Linked DNA regions of Homo sapiens. The protein of the gene in region 3 purifies or fractionates together with the protein of the main gene of each other region. This does not show direct contact. Each region holds a gene or a part of one and is shown on either strand. Other genes may lie near its edges.

Evidence for each region. Proteins that work in one complex are often made in the same cells at the same time.
Region 1: the proteins of SLC5A7 (region 3) and MGAT5 purify together in Homo sapiens (affinity purification with mass spectrometry; one large-scale study listed by BioGRID and IntAct). This does not show direct contact.
Region 2: the proteins of SLC5A7 (region 3) and SLC6A18 purify together in Homo sapiens (affinity purification with mass spectrometry; one large-scale study listed by BioGRID and IntAct). This does not show direct contact.
Region 4: the proteins of SLC5A7 (region 3) and KIAA1549 purify together in Homo sapiens (affinity purification with mass spectrometry; one large-scale study listed by BioGRID and IntAct). This does not show direct contact.

The regions. Positions count from the first base shown.
Region 1 is NC_000002.12:134,334,072-134,337,571, reverse strand, and holds part of MGAT5 (alpha-1,6-mannosylglycoprotein 6-beta-N-acetylglucosaminyltransferase A), read right to left. Parts: intron 1,356-3,500; coding exon 1,284-1,355; intron 1-1,283. UniProt on the Homo sapiens protein: Catalyzes the addition of N-acetylglucosamine (GlcNAc) in beta 1-6 linkage to the alpha-linked mannose of biantennary N-linked oligosaccharides.
Region 2 is NC_000005.10:1,223,989-1,228,180, forward strand, and holds the start of SLC6A18 (inactive sodium-dependent neutral amino acid transporter B(0)AT3), read left to right. Parts: upstream 1-1,392; 5' UTR 1,393-1,489; coding exon 1,490-1,649; intron 1,650-4,192. UniProt on the Homo sapiens protein: Does not show neutral amino acid transporter activity.
Region 3 is NC_000002.12:107,985,282-107,989,323, reverse strand, and holds the start of SLC5A7 (high affinity choline transporter 1), read right to left. Parts: upstream 2,801-4,042; 5' UTR 2,561-2,800; intron 1,338-2,560; exon of another isoform or gene 1,220-1,337; 5' UTR 1,169-1,219; coding exon 991-1,168; intron 1-990. UniProt on the Homo sapiens protein: High-affinity Na(+)-coupled choline transmembrane symporter. Functions as an electrogenic, voltage-dependent transporter with variable charge/choline stoichiometry.
Region 4 is NC_000007.14:138,974,890-138,978,389, forward strand, and holds part of KIAA1549 (UPF0606 protein KIAA1549), read right to left. Parts: intron 1-3,500. UniProt on the Homo sapiens protein: May play a role in photoreceptor function.

The DNA.
Region 1 (3,500 bases), about 26 Mb from region 3:
TTTCATAGAACATCTCAAACATGCTGAGTCCACCTTTTCAGTAATCACCATAGCTCATTCTGAACACTCATCTCTTTTCCTTCTTTATCCCCCTTTGAGATAGGGTCTCACACTCCCACCCAGACTGGAATGCAGTGGCATAATCACAGCTCACTGGAGCCTTGAACTTGCGCTCAAGCGATCCTCTTGTCACCTCAGCCTTCCAAGTAGCTGAAACTATAGGCACTCGCCACCACGCTCAGCTAGTTTTTAAATTTTTTGTAGTGATGGGGTCCTGCTGTATTGCCCAGGCTGGTCTCAAATGGCTGGCCTCAAGCAATCCTCCTGCCTCAGCCTCCTAAAGTGCTGAAATTACAGGCATGAGCCGCCACATCCAGTTTCATTTCCCTTCTTGACTAAACAATATCCTACGACTCCTGTGGTTTACAGCATGGAACAGCAAACTACAGCCCTTGGGCTAAATCCTCACAGCTTGTTTTTGTGCATAAAATTTTACTGGAACTCAGCCATGCCCCTTCATTTACATATCATATACAGCTGCTCTCTGCGCTACAATGGCAGAACTGAGGAGCTGCAATGAGACCAATATGGCCTGCAAAGATGAAACTATTTACTATCTGGGTATTTTGTAGAAGTTTAGTGATCTATGGTCTAAAGAGTAAAGACTTAAGCTTTTAATGTGGCAACAAGTACTTTCACAGTCCCCTTCCTACCTTCCCAATTTCACCTTCAGCCTAGCTCATCCAGTCACCTATGGCCTTGGCCAACTGAACCATGCGTGCATGCTCTCCTCCCTGAAACTGCTATGCTCTCATTTTCCCACACGAGAGATACCCTTTTCTCCTTGACCTTATATAAACTCACTCATCATTTAAATTCGGCCCCAATGTCATCTTCACTATTCAATCTACCCTGAACCTTGCAGACTAAAATGACCTCTTCCTCATTAATTCCCACAGGCCTATATTACAGCATTTGTGACAGAGATGGTCATTATTTGCCATCAGCCTTATTAGATCACTAAGGGCCTCCACAGCTCGTACCAGGTCTTACTCATATCAGTAGCCTATCATTCAGGAACCCTCAGAGAATTGCTCAGTAAACAAACCTATGCTAATGGTTGACTGATTTAGTCACTTAGACTTCCACAGAGACGAATACAGAAGTTTTTCAGTGTAACACTATTTCAGGTTATAGTTGGCATTTCTAGAAGATTCCACATGTATCACTTGGCATCTGACCTAAATGCACAAGTCTAGAAAGAGTTTTCCAAAATCACTTACCAATGAATTATGATCAGCTTCTTCGTAGGGATTTTTTGCTCTCCAAGGTAAATGAGGACACCAATTTTCAACCTAAAAAGCATCAGTGACACTAAATATGCAGCTTCATCTATAATGAATTAATATACATAAAAAGCACCGAGAACAGCTCCTGGCACACAACTAGCACTATATTAATATGTGCTATTTTTATTATTAGCCAAATTCCCATGCTTTTAGCTAGTATTCCAGATACAAGTGCCCTCTCAGATGAAACAATCAGCAGCAAAGGTCAGAAGGAAGAGATTATACTTTACATCTGTCCTTCGAAGTACTTTACAGCAATTAATTCCTTAGTCATTTAAGCCTCACATCTCTGTACCAGAAGGAAAGGCAGTCTAATGGCAGAAAGTTAAAAGACTGAAACATTGCCACTGGGGAATGAGAATGTAAGGTGTCTCTGTGACCCTTTAGCAAATGGACAGGAAAGATCCTTATCTGCTGTGGCATATCTGGAAAGGAAAGGGAATGGCATTGGAGCCACAGAACTCAATCCTTTATCTGAGTTAGGAATGCCACTGATAGCTTAGGGCTAATTGGTCAAGGTTTCCCTCATTTTCTAGCTATTTGCTTCACACTATCTCAAGAAATAAGGTGGTAAAACCTATCTGAGAAAGAAATGAAAGGAGGAGAAAAAAAAAAAACCTTGATGATCTTGTGAGAGCCAATCTGGAAGATGGATTGTTCTGTCAATGAATAAGGTTTAGAAATTGAGGGGAGGAGGAAAGAGAAAGGAAAAAAGAACTTGATTCTATAGAAATTATTTCAGCAAAGGTTATCAAAGACTATTAGGCAACTTAATTTCTAGCAAAAAAATGAGAAATGCATTAAAGTTATATTGGTGTCTGTTCTCTGTCAAAACTAGCCATAAAATTTGAAGACAGCATTATCACCCGTTTACTAATAAAGAATGAGATTATGAAATATGGCTAACAGGCATTGAAAATAATTTTTCTATGGCCAGGTAGATCTATAAAATTTAATGAGCAATAGAGTGAGGGAATGTCCTTAAAGGGGTCACTAAGATAGCAGAGACGTGTGGAGCTATAGCCTCATGGGTCAGCACAAGACAGTGTGCCCTCTCAGTCTGGGTAAGTTTTCAAAGAAACATGTCAGTTTTACTTAATCTGGAAGTTACTCATAATGCAAGGTGATCTTTACTATAACCAAAGTAATTGGCCTGATTTGCATAAAGCCATCTGCCACTGCAGATGATCCCAAAGCAATAAGCAGAGAGAAGCAAAGCTTGGGGAGAGGGCGGAATCTCTGAATAGGAAAAGTGAAATATTCTCTTATCTTCTTACGGGATAAAATTAGACCTTACCATATTTGTGAATGATTCAGAGACTCAAAAGGATTCCCCACAAGGAAAGCTAAAATGGTTTTTACTCATAAAAAAGAAAAGACCAACTTGCCTTGGAGGCCTACAGTCTAATTACTGGGATCTGACAACAACATGACCATGAAAGGCAATATCTGCAGCTCCACAAATGAGAAAAATGAGGAAAAACAGCAGAGAAAAAGCCTGCAAGTGGATGAAGCCTAAGCTGGTCTCAGTAGCATTATGCACATCTGTACCTTGTATTCTTAGGCCAGATTGAATTATTTAGCTCCAATTAGATTTGTGCTAATGGACTCAATAAAGCATATTTATAACATGAAGACTTCAAATGGATTGTAGACTTGATTGTGAGATCTTTAACCTCACCCCATCCCACCCCCAACCCTGCAAAAAAAAAAAAAAAAAAAAAAAGGATGAGCAAGGAAAGTAGAGATTTGAAATACACCTTACACCAAGTAAATAACCAAATTTACCAGCCACCCACCAGGATGAAGTTTTCCCAGGAATAGCATGATGGGGAAAGATGAAACAAGACTAAAGAAAATCAACTAAGAGGAGAGACATGAGCGAGACCAGATACTCATAAAGTTCTCTCCTCACTCTGCCACTGCAAGAAGAATCTTTCAAGATTCACTGTGATGAAAATACAGTCCCAGGTGATTTTTAAAAAGATGACTTCCCTACAGAAGCCTGAAGACTGTAATGCCTCTTTGAAACTGATCATTTATCTTAGTTCTTCTTATTCTAAATCACTGGGTATTACTCCCTAAGGCTCCAAGGGCACTCCTGAAAATATAAAATATAGAGTCAATCCAATTTAGCTTTTAGCAAGAAAT
Region 2 (4,192 bases), on a different chromosome or scaffold from region 3:
GGCTGTGATGCCACCGAGGGGCTCGCCTGCTGATGGCTTCAACAGGGTCTCACCTCATCTTTTCCTGCTCTTTGGCCCTGGATCGAGAAAATTTCCATCAGTGCCCCATTAATATGCTGCCCTGTGGCATCTGCCCAGGAGGCCCTGCCAGGCGTGCACAGGTGTGCATTGGTGTACCCTGGCATGCACAGGTGTGCACTGATGTGCCCTGGCATCCATTGGTGTACCCTGGTGTGCCTGCCATAGGACCCTGGGCGGGAGCTCCCATCTCATCTACATCTCCTGATTCATGCGTTGTTTCATAGGTTTCAATGTCTCTGTAAATGTGGTAGAAATGCAGGCTTTATGGGCATAAAGTGTACATTTCTAAATAAATCCCTTCTATTGAGTATGCTCACCCTAGAAGTTACTGTTGTCCAGACGTAGAGGGATGAGTGAGCCAGTGACCTCAGACGGGATGGTGGGGACGGCAGGTCCAGCTCCTGCCTCCTCCTGGGGGGTCTGGCTTTGGGGGCTTGCTCCGAAGAGGCCATGGCCCAGGCCTGTGGCCTCACAATGGGGACCAACCAGCTCTTCTCATCTTCTTCCCTCACACTTCCTCTCACTCAAATAAGAACCTTCCAAAAATGTGTCCACCTGGGCCCCTGCCCTGGGACTCATGGATTTGGAGTTGTGGCCACACGGTTGAGGGGTGCAGTGTCCAGTGGAATGGGGCAATTGCGGGCCTGGGGGCCCTTGGCCTGTCCGTGGCGGGAGCATCTGCAAGGAGGAGCCCCAGAGTCCAGGGAGCACTGTGGGGAGCTCCTTAGAGCTGAACTCACCCGGCGTCAACTCATCAACCCTCCACCCATGGACAGGGGTGCCCCCAGCACAGGAGAGGACTCAGCCCTCTGCCCCCACGCACGGTGGGTGCCTGTCACCCTGTCCTGCCCAGCGGCCCGAGGGCAGCAGTGGGTGTGAGGGCAGCCCCCGGCCTCCCAAGAGCAGCTGAGAGGATCCCTGCGGGAATCCGGGCTTCGGGTGCATGCGATCTGATCTGAGTTGTTTCTGACAGTGACAGAGTGACAATCTATAAGTATCTCAAGATCAAATGGTTAAATAAAACATAAGAAATTTAAAACGATTAAAATATGCCTCAGTCTTGGGAATCCTGGTGTCTGCAACAAAAAAACTTGAGGCTGTCCTTGCAAACGGTCCTCATGGTGCTGGGGGTGGTGCCAGGCCCGGCGTTTGCCTGGAACACAGAGCATGCGAGAAGGAGCAGAGGACGTGGGTGCCAGGGAAGGACCCTGGCGTCAGAGCCAGGGCCTGGACCTGAGTTACCCATTAACGGCACTCCACTGGTTTTCCTTTAAAGAAATGAATAAATACAACTGCAGTGGGGCTGCTTGTGGTTTCCAAACGTCGGCAGAGGCTGGAGACGGCTCTCTAGTGCTGGGTGTGGAGTGAGGCACCACCCTTGCCCTGAAGCCTGGGGCACTCAGTCACCATGGCTCATGCCCCAGAACCGGACCCGGCCGCCTGCGACCTCGGGGATGAGAGGCCCAAGTGGGACAACAAGGCCCAGTACCTCCTGAGCTGCACTGGGTTTGCCGTGGGACTGGGGAACATTTGGCGGTTCCCATACCTGTGCCAGACCTATGGAGGAGGTAAGCACCCACCTGCGTCCTGGGGCAGACCCCTAAGCAGGGGAGGCCGTCTCCACCCTGACCTGCCAGGCGCCTGCCACGCATCCCCAGTGCTTGGGCAGAGTCACTCCTCCTGGAAACCAGGGTGCACCATTGCCCACGGCAGAGTCAGTCCCCTCAGGGCCCACCTGCAGTCTTCTGGGACCTCAGGGCAGCTTCACCACTGCCCACAGCACGGAGGATCCAGTCCCCTCGGGGTCCACTATGGTCTTCCGGGACCTCAGGGCAGCTTCCTGCCAGGCGTCAGGTTGAATGGGCCGCCCTGCCCGACACACACACCCTACAAACAGTGAGCGCTCTTCCATCTGAATGTCGTCAGTTCTTTAAAGAACACACAATCCGCTCTGGGTTTCCTCACCACAGCCTTGGTGTGTCCAGACATGTGCTCAGGTGCCCTTCTCCGAGGTTCTTTGCAGGAATTTGGGGGCCCACCCCTCGCCTCCCTGGCTTTGGTTCTCTGGGAGAGCCCTGTGGGGGGTGCCAGGATGTTCAGAACTGTCTGGGTGACTTTAGTGACCTTGGACTCACCACCCCCAGAAGTGCATTGGTGACTGAAATAGGCTCCCACGCACCTCGAGCCTCCCCTCACCCTGTGCCTGCTTCTCTTCATGCAGGGGTCACACTCTGCTCTCCATGTGGCGACACAGGATGTAGGGACAGGCATGAATCACTGCTCTCAGGGAGCCGACGTACAACATCACGCATGGACACCCAGGTCTTCCCCAGGCAACACGGGCAGGGGCTTCCCAGGCCGCAGGGTCCTCCTCAGGCCAGGCCGGGCTGCTTGGTCAGCCTGTTCCCCGGGCCCTCAGCTCCTTCCCTGAGAGCCCCGCACAACTATCCCTTGTTATAAGGTTACTCCTTTAAAGTGTTTTTCCTCCTGCTTAAGAAAAGATTCTCAACAGGCAGAAAATGCAGGAAATGCGCACAAATGGAAAAAACAAAAAGAAACACCCGTCACTGCCACCCTCGGGGCACTGGGGTCTCTTTGGGGCTTTGGGGCTGGAGAGGGTGCATTGGGCCTTGGATCTTCTCATCATGAGAGTCCCTTTGAAGGCATTTCTGAAAGCACCAAAGCCCAAGGGCAGAGGCGTCCCTGGCTCCCGGGGCCCTCGCTGCCTGTGCTGCGGCTCGATCTGCTAAGAGTCACCAGAGCATGCAAGGTTGTGGGGGCAGCAGGCTTCACGCAGAGCTGGAAATGCCGGCCAACGCTTTACCCACCAACGCCTTGTTCGCCAATGCCTTGCCCACCGATGCCTTTCCTGCTGATGCCTTGCCCAACGCCTTGCCCACCGACGCCTTGCCCACCGATGCCTTGCCCACCGATGCCTTGCCCGCCGACGCGCCCAACGCCTTGCCCGCCGACGCCTTGCCCGCCGACACCTTGCCCGCCGACCCCTTGCCCGCCGACGCCTTGCCCGCCGACGCCTTGCCCGCCGACGCCTTGCCCGTCGATGCCTTGCCCGCCGATGACTTGCCCGCCGATGCCTTGCCCGCCGATGCCTTGCCCACCGAAACCCAGTTACCATTGCTAAGCGCCTGCAGTGTACTGGAAGTGTCTGGCACTAGCCTCCCTTAAACTCAGCTGCTCCACGCTGGGGCAAAGCTGGGGAGGCCCCCACCTGGGGTGCTGCTGAGGAGGGAGAACAGCCCTGCCCGCCAGCTGCGCGGGGACTTCAGGGCTGCTCCACTCATGAACGACTCTACCATCAATCTCCTGATGCAAGCCACCGGGTTGCATGTCATGAAACATCCAAGTTTATTTAACTCACACACTTCCTAAGGGCCGTGCCATCAGCATTCTCACCCTGTGTGTGAACATGCCCTTCACTTTGTCTCGCTGTGAGGATCACTCATTGATGATTTTGAAAACAAGATATAATTAAGAAGCAGGTACTGTGTAGCTTTTAACATTTGCATATACTCATGACTACCAAAGGCGAATATTATTTGCTCTCCCATTCATAAGTATTCAACTACATAAATGTTCTCTTCAAAGCTAAGACTTGTAAAGCAACATTGTAACAGAATGTAGCAAAACGTTGCGGTAAAGATTTACAGTGATTTTCTCACACCTATGACATTTCATGGCAGCTGCTTTATTACACATTCAGCGTCTTTAAATCAAAGGAACGTAGACTCGTAAATGCCAAGCGATGGGTTCAGGCCAGCTGCCCGGGACACTCTAACACTTGCTGTGGTTTAAGGTTTCAACCCAGGAAGCTTTTATGACTAAGCTGGTGGCCCTGGGCTGGCTGTGTCCACACACGTGAGGTCACTCATCAAGCGCGCCCCCTCCCCGCTACTTCCTGCCTCCGGTGTTCAACCGACTTCTGTATCTGGTAGGTGCTGTTGAGATCTGTGGATTCTTGCACCAAAAACGACACTGTATTAATTACTATGGCTTCTTCGTTAGTCTCGACGCCTAGTAGTAGAGCAAGGCCTTTTTTTTTTATTCTTTGAACTTTTGCCAGCTGCTACTTTTCCTCTGAGCTTTACACCAG
Region 3 (4,042 bases):
ATTGCCCTTCGGGACTGAAATTGGGCATCACTTGATATCATTTCCCATGGGATATTTTTCCAATGAACGCTCACAGTTCTTGCTATGTTGCAAATGTTTAAAAACTCTACTAAGACTGTATAATGAAATATGTGTTGTTAGTGCAACTGTATTAAATATTAAACATATAATTCTAAGTTGATGTTTTTCAGAATTATTTTCAACGACCAAGAAGAATATAAAAAAGAAACAAATCACCCTTTAAACAGAACCACTTTAGTGCAAAGTAAGAAAGAATATCAGCTCCTGCTAACACAAAGAAGGTTTGAATGAGAGATGACTGCAGATGGTGGCCTGGGGATTCCTATGAGGACACACCCTAGCTTTTCCCTTTTATAACAAGGTTCATGAAATCTCTTTATTAGTGCTGTGGACTCATAACATGTGATTGTCTTCCTGTGAGGAATTAGTTATTAAATGAAAGAATTAGGTTTCAAAACAGGGAATCACTCAATTGGGAATATCATCACCCCCAAATTTATTTATGCAGATTAAAAACCATCACTAGATGGTATTCATTGGCACTTATTTAAATCTCAAAGTCACAACTTTATGCATGTATTACCGGACACGTTGAGATGCTGCCTATCACATTAATTAGCAGATACATAGCTTGTAATACTAGGACAGCTTCCCATTCCCCCACCTCTTTGTTTTTACTCTGTTTCCACCCACTCAATAGCCCAGGGAGCCAAGATTTGTTTCATGACTGTTCAGTCCAGTGATTTATTATAAAATCATTTTTGTTCAAGTACTACTGAGTTGAAACCAATTTATTTTTAGGTTTTAAATCAATAGAAAATTATTTTAAAATATATATAACTAGTGAACATAAAGAATCCCCAAAGGACAAAGACCAACATTTGCTTTGTCACTCTGAAGCCACACGCTGCACACTCACAGATGCCAAGGAAGGGAGGACTGCATGGAGCCGGCGGCGTCTGAACGTACCTGTCATGGTAAATCCACCAACCAATAAACCAATATCTCGGCCACCAACTATGATGGCTTCGCTGCGCTCTTCTGCGCTGCCACTGTTTTTGGTTCTCCAGGCAGCCCATATTCCAACCAGCAAAATTAGAAGGTAGAACACGATGATAGCTATCAGTCCTTCCACATGGAAAGCCATTTTTATCTAATGATCCAGATTCTTCTGCAGCTGGCTACTTCATTAAGTCTTCTGAAGAAAATACAGGGATGCATTATAAACCAGTCAAGCACTATGCACATGTAGGCAGCCAGGAATAAACCAGCTGGCTCATGCGAGATCCTGTGCCACTCACAGAAAGAGTACAACCCTGAAACCACACGTGAAACGGGCAGTTAACAATAAGTGTCCACTACATTATCCTACTTCTATTTAACAATTTAACATTATTTTGAGTTTGCAAGAAACAGAAAAAAAAACGGAAATGTAGTTTAACAAATGGAATCATAATCCTTGTGTGTTTCATACATGCTTTAAATTTAAAATTAACCTTGTCGTGTATATCTTAACTCAGTAACTGTCAAATCATTTACAAAGAGTAGCGCTGTATCTGCGTTTTGGAACTAAGTTACTCTTCTAGAATTATTTATTCTAGAAGTGTTAAGTGTTTCATAAATGACCATTCTGAAAATTTTAAAATATTCATTAATTTATTCATTCTTTTATCTGTCCTTTCAAACAACTTCAGAGAATGGCTTCAGTAGTAATCTGATATAAAAATATCTGAAAAAAATCTTTAGAAAAATCCATTTCAAAAACACATCAAACTCCACATTTTCAACAAGCTTCTGTAGTTCAAGTTACTATAGCAACTAAGTATGTTTTTTGTTGTTGAAAGGATCCATTCTCTTGATCTTCTTCGCCCAATATCCTTCATTCAATTCATCACCCCCCATTAATGGTACATACAGGAAAAGGTTTTGTTGTTGTTGTTGCTGTTGTTTTAAACACAATTGCCTAAAAGCACATCAGAAGCCTCAAAGATATTAAAATCAAGACTCTTAGAAGACAGATGTCAAGTTCGAAAGCATTCACCTTCTGAAATTCTTGTCCCCTTTTATTTTTATTTTTATTTATTTTTTACCTTTGTGACCACAGCTGTTCCATGAACCCAAACTCTCACATACAAGTTTCTGGGGGAAACTCTGACATTTGTGCGTGCAGGTGGGTGAAGAGACGTTGGGGGAAAGAATCAGCCTCTCTGGAATTTAAAGGAGGCAAAAGAAGCGCCCGCGGGCTGTGTCTTCTCTGCCTTTGTGAGCAACCAAGCAGGCAAGTTCCTCTCCGCAGCAGCCCGATGCTCTCCCGGCCCCCTGCGGCCTTTCCTCGGCCCCCTCTACCCATTTCCTGCGCCCAGACTTTGTAGCCTCTTGCACCCTGACAGCAACGGTGCCAGACAGCAAACCCGCCCTCGCATCCCACCGAGAGGGAAAAACGCCGCGTCCCTCCCCTCTAAAACCGCCCGGGCTCGGTGCCCAAGGCGTTTCCGAGGGTGCGGGCCCGTAGGCGCAGGAATGCCCGCTCCGCTCCTACCTGGAGTGGTGGCTGCACGCGAAAGCGCTCCGCCCGGGGCCGCCGCCCCCTGGAACCGCGAGGGGTGTGGGTGCGAGGGTGCAGAAAGGGAGGGTGCGGGGTGGGTCGGGGTGCAGTGCGGAGCGGGGCCGGGCGGTCAGGGCGGCTCCTCACTCGGCGTCTCCAAGAACCTGGGAGCGCGCAGAGTTGACAGGTGTTGGCGCCGGCGGAGGGCGCGCGGCGCAGGGCGAGGTGGGAATCGATCGAGTATTGGGAAAAGTCCCCTTTATAAGGGCGGCAGGCGGGGGCGATCGTCAGACATCCGGAGGCGGACGTCAGAGGAGAGTGGTGCTAGGGCGTGTGCTAGGGACGCTGCCCTCGCGAGGAGGGTGGGTGTGCGGGATGCGAAGGAAACGGGGCCCAAGGAGCTGGGGGGCAGGCTGGGCTCTGGTCCGCGCTGCCAGCCATGGTATCCCCATCCTGAGACAAGTACCTGCTACTCCCATCTCCTCCTCCAGAAAACTGGGCGGAGATTCCTTAGGGTGATTCCCAGTCGAACTTCTCATCCCTCTGGTTGGAAGCTGGGAATGGGGAGGGTCTCAGAGGATTATATTTTCAGAAGCAGCAGCTGGAAGCCTAGAGGAGAGAAGTGTCCTGTTCTTTTCTTCCCAGGTCAGAGTCTGGAATTGTTTCCTGACGAGTCTCTCTGAGAGGGAAGGGGTCCTCTCCCGCGGCCTCCCCTGGGCCCTGTTGGAAGCTGTTCCTGGCGTCCCTGGTGATGGGCTCCCTGAAGGAGACATTTCAGGAAGGTTTAGAAAGTCCTTTTTACATTCATACCCCTGCCACTTAAAAGTAGGGCTACCATGAAGGACACTAGGCGTGGTCCAGATTAACAATGAGGTTATCACAGAAGTCAGACAAGATGGCTTTCCTGGTAGAGCCCTTTGGGCAGCTGGCCTGCTGAATATCCTATTCCAGCTTACAAAAATTTGCTGTGTTAGTTTACAATATATCCATATACCTACCTATTTTTATAGATTATTTATATATTACACATATAAATATGTATCTATAGATGTATTTCTACATCTAGGTGTACATGGATAGATGCAGATACCTGTGTGAATGTGAATGGAGGAAGAGAGAAGGGTGGGAGAGAATAAGATAGAAGAGTCACAAGCCACAAAGCTACAAGCACTCTGGCCACTTTCTCACTTCTTTCCGCATTCCACCATGAGAGTGTATTTAACAGTGAAATACACAAGTCTAATAAGGGATAGAATAAATAAGAGTGCCTCTGAACTACTGTTCACCTCTCTAGGCCAATCAGACCATCTCCCCTTTTCTTACACTGGATTTTGAAATTAACTTCCAAATTTATGTTACTACCCCTTTTCTTTCTTCTCTGTATAAACAATAACTGCATCCAACTACCTCTTTTGAGGTGAGAAAGCCTAGGGAGTTCAAACAGAAATTAAGACGGGCCAAAAGGCCTGCAAAGAT
Region 4 (3,500 bases), on a different chromosome or scaffold from region 3:
TACATAGCTCCAGAGTTAGTCCAGGCTGACTTAGCCTTCAATGTTCCAACAATACCTATTCCCAGAAGGCTAGAACAGAAGGCACTTTACCTCTTAGCCCAGTGCTTCCCAAACCTCAATTGTGCATGCAAAATCACCAGGGGGATCTTGTCAAATGCAGATTCTGATTCAGAAGGTCGGGGGTGGGCCCTGAGATTCTGCATTTTCTAACAAGCTACGAGGCAGTGGAGGCAGTGATGATGCGAGCTAAGAGGCAGTGATGATGCTCAGAGTGTGGGGACCACAAGATTAGAATTTCACTAATGAGAAGTAATTGCCTGAAGCTAACAAAGGAGATGGAAAAAAGAAAGAGACAAAGAGAAAGAATAAGAGAAAGCAAAGTATGGGTCTTGAGTGTGTGGATGCAAGAGGGAAGAATAAAGGGAGTTTTTAAAAAGAAGAGCCATCTGCAATGGTGAGAGTGAGCTGCCTTCAGCAGGTCATGGGCCTAGAACATCTACCAGGCAAGGAGAAATGACAAAACAACCTAACAGAAAAAGGACAGATGCTGCTTATAAGTGCATTCCAAGACATCCAAGATGTTGACTTGATATGTAGGAGCTACAGGGAGAAATGAGCTACAAGGAGCTAGAGGGTTAATGAGATTAGCGCTAATCTCATTAACCCTTTCTTACACCGAGGAGGAAACCCAGGACAAGGTAACTTGTCCATAGTCACAAAGTTACAGGCAGATTTGCATTTGCACACACCCAGGTTTTTTAACTCACCTTTTAACAAATCCTGCTGCCTAACAACAAGAAAAAGAAATCACATCATTGTGAGCTCCAGATGAAAGGTGGGTGGTCACAACTTGAAAACAAATTAGATCAGTTAGAACAGTGTCTTCCTATCTGGGAAAATCAACCTAGTGTAATTATAATGACGGTAATTAGCTGCCTCTATCATTCAGGGCACTGATAGAAAACCTGTGGCTCCCACGTCCCTAGTGACTTGTAACAACTCCCTGGCTGGGTTCTGTTTTCAGAATTAAGTGAGGCACTTCCTGACAAGCACTGCAGCAGCTGTTCCCAAACGGGCAGGAGTGAGCATTGAAAATGCAGTCCTCTGCACCCTTTCACTCCCAACCCAAACAAAACCAAGCAAAAACATGTAACAAAAAATGCTTATTTTATTTTACCTTATCTTATTTTATCTTATTTTATTTTGAGATGGAGTCTTGCTCTGTCACCCAGGCTGGAGTGCAGTGGCGCGATCTCATTTCATTGCAACCTCTGCCTCCCGGGTTCAAGCAATTCTCCTGCCTCACCCTCCCAAGTAGCTGGGATTACAGGCACCTGCCACCACACCCGGCTAATTTCTGTATTTTTAGTAGAGACCGGGTTTCACCATGTTGGCCAGGCTGGTCTCCAACTCCTGACCTCAGGTGATCCCAAAGTGTTGGGATTACAGGCGTGAGTCACCGCGCCCGGCCTCAACATAACGATTTTAAATTAGCTGTTCTAACAGTGAAAAGACAACTGCAAGATACCAATGGTATACAGTAGTCCCCCTCCTCCAAGGTTTCGGATACCGGAGGACAACTGCAGTTTGAAGATATTTTGAGATATTCTGAGGTATTTTGAGATACAGCATATTCACGTTTTATTACAGTAGACTGTTAGAACTGTTCTGTTTTGTTATTATTGTTAATCTCTTACTGTGCCTCATTTTTTAATTAAACTTTATTGCAGGTATGTACATATAGGAAAAAACCATGGTATATACAGACTTCAGTACTACCCAAAGTTTCAGGCATCCACTGGGGGTCTTGGACCACATCCCTTGCAGATAAGGAGGGACTACTATATCTTCAAAATACTGTTAATTTTCAGTTACTGGGTTTACCATATCCGGATCAGTGGTTCCAATGCTCAGGGGCTAAAACGGAGCTGTCAACTTGTTAAAATGAAGATTCCCAGGCACTGCCACCAAAGAGTCTAATTTAGAGGCTAAGGGTGAGTCGTAGACATCTAAATTCTTAACAAGCACCCCCACATCCCCAAATGATGTTGATGCAGGAGGCCTAGGGGCCACACTTTTGAAACATTTAAGTATTTGTTTATAATATCCTAAACGACTCACAAAGCATAAATATTCACCTAGAAATGGCCAATAATAAAACAGCACATTAAGAAAAAAATTTCACACACCATAAGCATAAATGCAATAAAAAAATTATTAAAAGAACAAATGGCAGATCTTGCTAATCAAAACAACCAAAAACTTCTACATTTCAAAATTATGTAAAATTTAAAAGAAATTCCTTTGGAAGGGGAAAACGCAACATATAGAAGGAAAAATGGTTGCTATCCTTCTAATACATAAAGATTTAAATACATATCTATGCCACAACAGGTAAATAAATAAAAATACAGAGAAAATTCACAGAATACAAATACAAAATAAAAAATATTCAATTCTAAAGCAATAAAACCGTGCAGGTTAAAACAATGTATTACAAATTTATTTAACAAGGGCTTTTAAAGTAACATTCAATGCCAGTGATGAAGTGAATACTCAATGCAAGTGATAATGGAAGGCCCCTGCGTAAGCTTCAAGGGCTTATGTCAGCATTATAACTTTCAAAAATTGCTTCATTCAAAAATCACATACTGAGTACCTACTAGGGGCCCAGCATTTTGAACAAAAGATGCAGAAATCCAGCCTGGTGGGCCTTACATTTTAATCACACTCTAATACCCCTTCCACAAATGTATACTCAAGAAAACACACACACACACACACACACACACACACGGAAAGAAACATGCACAAAGCCTTTTTTTTTTGAGACGGAGTCTTGCTCTGTCGTCCAGGCTGGAGTACAATGGCGCCATCTCGGCTCACTGCAACCTCTGCCTCCCTGGTTCGAGCAATTCTCCTGCCTCAGCCTCCCAAGTAGCTGGGATTACAGGCACATGCCACCACACCCAGCTAATCTCTGTATTTTTAGTAGAGACGGGGTTTCACCATGTTGGCCAGGATGGTCTCAAACTCCTGACCTCAGGTGATCCGCCCACCTCGGCTTCCCAAAGTGCTGGGATTACAGGCGTGAGCCAGCGCGCATGGCCAGCAGAGCCTTCTCTATGTAGCTATTCATCAGCATTACTTACAGCAACCCAAAAAATGGAAATAAAAGAATAAATCATTAGGATAGAAAATAGTTTTCAAATAAGACTTAATGAATGGAAAAATGCTTAAGTTAAATGTAGAGTGGAAATGGTAGTAAATACAATTGTGCATATAATTCTTTTTTTAATGTTAACAACAAAAAAACGATAAAATTACTTAGTGTTACCTACAGGCTGTGAGATTATGGGTGACTGGTTTCTGTACCTTTCAGTAATTTCCAAATTCCCTACAAAGCAATCTATTTCATAATAACTATTACTTTTTAAAAACTTATCTCTGAATAAGGTGAAGAAACTGGGCATGATTCTTTGTTTTTATACTGTGGATGG